Linked DNA regions of Homo sapiens: region 2 is linked to region 1. A link means that fine-mapping ties the variant in region 1 to the expression of a gene that starts in the linked region. Tissue or cell type: whole blood. Region 1 holds a variant in brackets; the other region holds the start of a gene. All regions are shown on one strand. Distances are from middle to middle.

Region 1 (2,686 bases):
TTCATGGATCAGAAGAATCAATATTGTCAAAATGTCCATATGCCCAAAGTGATATGTAGATTCAATGCAATCCCTATCAAAATTACAGTGGCATTTTTCACAGAAACAGAAAACACAATCCCAAAATTTGTTTGGAGCCATAAAAGACCCCCAAATAGCTAACACGATCTTAAGCAGGAAGAATGAAGCTGGTGGCATCACGCTCACTGATTAAAAATTATACTACAAAGCTATAGTAACAAGACAGTATAGTAGTGGCATAAAAACAGACACATAGGCCAATGGAGCAGAATAGAGAGCCCAGAAATAAACCCACACATGTACGGTCAAATAATGACCATGTGGACAAAGGTGCCAAGAACACACAATGGGGAAAGAATAGTCTCTTCAATAAGTGGTGCCGAAAAAACTGTATATCCATGTACCAAAAAAGTGAAATTGAAACTTTATCTTATGCCATACACAAAAATCAATTCAAAATCGATGAAAGACTTAAACTTAAGACTTAAAACTGTAAAACTTCTAGAAGAAAACATAGGGGGACAGCTCCATTACATTCGTCTTGGCAATGATTTTCTTTTTTTCTTTGATACGATACCAAAAGCACAGGAAACAAAAGTAAAAACAAACAAGGGAGACTGTCCCAAACTGAAAAGATTCTGCACAGCAAAAACACAGCAAAACGAAAAGGCAACCAAAGGAATGGGATAAAATATTTGAAAACCATATATATATGAGGTATTAATATCTAAAATATATAACGAACTCATATACCTCAACAGCAAAAAATAATAGTAATAATATCCCAACTTAAAAATGGGCAAAGGGGCTAGGCGCAGGGGCTCATGCCTGTAATCCTAGCACTTTGAGAGGCTGAGACAGTAGGATCCCTTGAGATCAGGAGTTTGTGACCAGCCTGGGCAACACAGTAAGACCTTGTCTCTAGAAAAAACATTTTTAAAATTAGCCGGGAATGATGCTGTGCACCTATAGTCCGAGCTGCTCGGGTGGCAAGAAGATTGCTTGAGCCTCAGAAGTCAAGACTGCAGTGAGTTATGATTGTGTCACTGCCCTCCAGCCTGGGCGACAGAGCAAGACCTTGTCTCTAAGAAAAAAAATGGGCAAAAGACTGATATTTTTCCAAAGATGACA[T/C]ACAAATGACCAAAAAGTATACAAAAAGGTGCTCAACATCGCTAATCATCAGGAAATGCAAATCAAAACAATAAGATATCATCTCACACCTGTTAGGATGACTATGATCAAAAAGTCAAAAGTTAACAAGTGTATGGCAAGGAGGAAATTAACAATCCTTATGCATTGATAATGAGAATATAAATTGGTACAACCATTATGGAAAACAGTATGGAGTTTCCTGAAAAAAAATAAAAATAGAATTACCATATCATCCAGAAATCCTCCTTCTGGGTATATCTCCAAAGAAAATAAAATCATGTTCTCAAAAAAGTATCTGGATTTCACGTTCAGTGCAGCATCATTGACAATAGTTAAGATATGGAAACAATCTAAGTGTCTAGCAACAGATTTATGGATAGAGAAAATGTGCTATATATACACTGTGGAATATTATTCAGATTTAAAAAAAGAAGATGAAATCCTGCCATATGTGACAACATGGATGAACCTGGAGGACACTGTGCTAAGTGAAATAAGCCAGACACAAACAGACAAATACTGCATGATCTCACATAGATGTAGAATCTAAGAAAGCTGAACTCAGAAACAGAAAATAGAATGGTGGTTGCCAGGGGCTGGTCACTGGTCAAGGATATAAACTTTCAGTTATAAGATGAATAAGTCCTGGGGACCTAATAACAACATAGTGATGGTAGTGTATAACAATTTACACTTGAAATTTGCTAAGACAGTAGATAGATCTTAAGCATTCTCACCACACACATATGAAAAAATGGAACTGTGTGAGGTGATGAATATGTTAATTAGCTAGATTATGGTAACTGTTTTACAATGTGTGTGTGTGTGCATATCTCAAAACATCATGTTGTATACCTTTAATATACATATTTGTCAATTACACTTCAGTAAAGCTAGAGACAAAATAAACAAAAAATAAAAATCAGGCTTTCAGGAGTGATGTCATGCAAACTAACAGAGCAAGGAGCTCCAGGAGCTATCTCTCTACTGAAACAACCATTGACCTGGAAGGAGTGACTAGAATCAACTATTTAGGAACGGTGGAACCTAACTAGACACTTACAACAACCAGGGGAGGGCTTGATGAAGGGAGGGACTGCTGATCTTTCCTAAGACAGCAACATAAGTGAACCAGCTACCATTCCCATCACAGCTTTGAAGATAGCAGCCCATGTTCTAGGAATGGCTGACTCATACCAGAGTAGGTAGTGGGGACTTTCTCTTCCAAAAATTGATGTTGTACATTTTTGTTGGTCTAGCAGTGTCTGAGGGGTTGACGCAGACACCCACTTTGGTTTTGGCCCTCTTGGTGGCAGCAACTTCCCCTGGCAGCATCCATATGAAAATTTTAAGTAACAACTCCTACCCACTTTTCCCTTTTTGGAACCAGTAATTTAAAGAAATATTTTTCAGGTCACTGACTGACCACAGAGATAACAGAACAGAAACTTCAGTGACCACACAAAACAAGAAACACGTATTTGCAAAAAGAGTTTGGAAAAGTCACAAATTA
Region 2 (2,686 bases), 160 kb before region 1:
GTATTATTCCACCAAATATATTCAATCTGTAAAAACTCAAATCATCCTTCCAAAATGATTAACAGATGCTAAAGGAAAAAGGGAAAGCGGGCAAATAAACCAGAGACTCATTGCTTCACTTCTGGGGCAATCGATTACTACTTCAAATTATGAGTGAAGACCAAAATCCTGCACAAAGGGCCGCGACACAACCCCGTCACTATTGCTACTATTTCCATCCAGTTGGTCTCTCGATCTTGGAAGTGGCAGGCCAGAATCTGAGCCCGGCTCTCCCTCCGTGAACTTTACACAGAGGCTGACACCCAAATCCCCAGTTCTCGGACAAGCGAGTAAGTAGTTGGCGGAGCAAAGAACAACTCCAGGTGCCTCCTGCCAGAACAGATGCCAGCGTGGAGGAGGTGCTTTGTTAAATGGCACTTCAATCAGCCCTGGGGAGAACGGGTTACAGAGCCTCACATCCAGCCTCGACGATTCAACAGCCCGGGAGGGCAAAGGTATTCACCGGGGAGGGCGAAGGCTTCCTCTCCCAGGACAGACCCGCGCTTGGGCTGCGGCCTCCGTCTTTATTTTGAAGCCCTACAGGGCTCGTCTCTGCAGCAGGCTCAGAATGAGCTATTTTCGCCCACAGCCAAAATCAGCAACAGCAAATTACACTGCAAACAATGGCGAGGGCGCCTGCTCGGCTCGGCTCGAAACTCCGGAGAGGCAGCGCAAAGATTCTGACTTTTCACTTGGGCAGAGCCCGTCCGCCGCCTCCCCGCGCTCCGGCTGCGCACCGCGCTCGGGTTCCGGCCACACGCCCCGAGGACAGGGAGACAGGGCGGCCGCCGGGACGTTCGGCGGGGAGGGCACCGTCACACCCAGGGCGAGACCCCGGAGACCTGGAGACGCGGGGCCGCGGGTGGCCGGGTGGCGGGATTCCCTCGCGGAGCGGCGGGCGCTCCCTGGCGGGGAGGACAGCAGAGCGCGGGCCGTCGGGGAACCGGGCGTCCCGCATAGCGCGCGGGGACCTGGGCGCCGTGAGGGGCAGGCGGACCTGGGATCCCAGAACCGCAGCCTGGGCTCCGACGCCCCCGACGCCCACCCTTTTAGCTCGGAGGATCGGGGAGGCACGGACCTCCGGCGGCAGCGGAGGGCGGCGGCGAAACGCCGGGGGCGCGTGGGTTAGCACTGAGCCGCCGCCCCAGCCCGCCTCGCCCCCGGGCCCGCGCGCACCCGCCGCCCCCCAGCCCGCTGCGCTCACCCGGCTCTTGCAGCGGTGGTGCCGGCCGGGGTACGAGTAGGTCCGGTCCACGGTGAGCGCCGTGTCGCTGCCCGGCATCTCCGCGCTCCGGCCGCGAACTTTCCCGTCTTCTGGGGCTGCCGCGCCGCGAGCCACCGGCTGTGCTCGGGATCACCCTGGGAGCCGCGGGCGAGGGGGCGGCGCGGCTGCTGCAGCTGTTGCCTCTGGTGCCAACACCCGCGCGGCCGCCCTGCGCCGCCGCCGCCGCGGGGTGGGGGAGGCGGGGCAGGAGGCGAGAGTCTCCTCCCCCTTCCCTTCTCCCCGCCTCTCCCGCGCCCCGCAGCCGCCTGGACCCCCCACCCACCCCCGACCCGGGAGGCAATGTCTTCGCCTCCCTCCCTGGCTGAAAGTTGATTCCATCCCCTCCCACACAGCCCTCTTTCTCCCCAAAAGATAAGCGACATCCACACTACACTATCTGTTGACTTATTTTATATATAAAAGGTGACTGTTACTGCAAGAAGTTGACACTTGCCTTAAATGCCTCTTTTTATGTTATTCTCCATTCAACAGGCACTTACTGGGCAGCTGCCATGTACCAGACGCTGGACTAGAGACCAGAGATTTAAAGTAAAAAAATGAAATAAAATAAAAACTCCCCCCGACCATGATTGCCCTGAGCATAGAGCATACTTCCACTTAAACTAAGATCCTACTGTGTTGTGTATTTTAATTTTGCATATCTGGCTCACCTTTATGTTTCTTTCTTTTTTTTTTTTTTTTGAGACTGAGTCTCGCTCTGTCACCCAGGCTGGAGTGCAGTGGCGCAATCTCGGCTCACTGCAAGCTCCGCCTCCCGGGTTCACGCCATTCTCCTGCCTCAGCCTCCCAAGTAGCTGGGACTACAGGCGCCTGCCACCACACCCAGCTAAATTTTTTTGTATTTTTAGTAGAGACGGGATTTCACCATGTTAGCCAGGATGGTCTCGATCTCCCGACCTCGTGATCCACCTGCCCTAGCCTCCCAAAGTGCTGGGATTACAGGCGTGAGCCACTGTGCCCAGCTTACCTTTATGTTTTAAGCTACTTGGAAGTCAGGATATCTTTTCATTTTAGTATTCCCCATTCCCAGTCATCAGTCCCTGCCCACAAGGAATTTGGAGTTTAGAAGAGGAAGGACCATTGGTGAACAATTTAAATATCAGTAACCCCAAACAAAATTCAAAACACCTGTTCTGGCTCTGTAGGGTGTACAGTGGGAGACTGGGCTGAAATATTTAAAGTGCAGCTGTTCCAGAGAGGACCTGGAGCCCAGTGTGACCAGTCCAGGGGGAGGGAAGGATTTCCCTCATAGGGTTCAAAGGGGACGGTAGAGCAGGCTGAAGAAAACTTTGGAGCCCCTAAAATCAGAGGTACATTTGGGAAAACCTCAAGTCATCAGTTTTGGGGAGTGTCCTCAGGAAC

The links. PIP is the estimated chance that this variant, and not a neighbour inherited with it, causes the effect.
Region 2: it holds the start of TMCC3, and the variant in region 1 is fine-mapped to the expression of TMCC3 in whole blood (INTERVAL, PIP 0.92).

What each region holds. Positions count from the first base shown.
Region 1 is chr12:94,810,042-94,812,727 of GRCh38, forward strand. No RefSeq gene overlaps it. Among named protein-coding and RNA genes, the nearest start is that of MIR492, 23 kb to the right of the region's middle. The variant T/C (reference allele first, on the strand shown) is at 1,153.
Region 2 is chr12:94,649,110-94,651,795 of GRCh38, forward strand. TMCC3 (transmembrane and coiled-coil domain family 3) reads right to left here and starts at 1,448. Exons shown (of 4, transcript NM_020698.4): 1 at 1,244-1,448. The coding sequence starts at 1,321. LOC105369914 (a long non-coding RNA gene) reads left to right here. Exons shown (of 2, transcript XR_945225.4): 1 at 1-494; 2 at 1,796-1,893. RefSeq lists silencers at 692-821, 912-1,381, 1,402-1,571 and an enhancer at 900-1,615.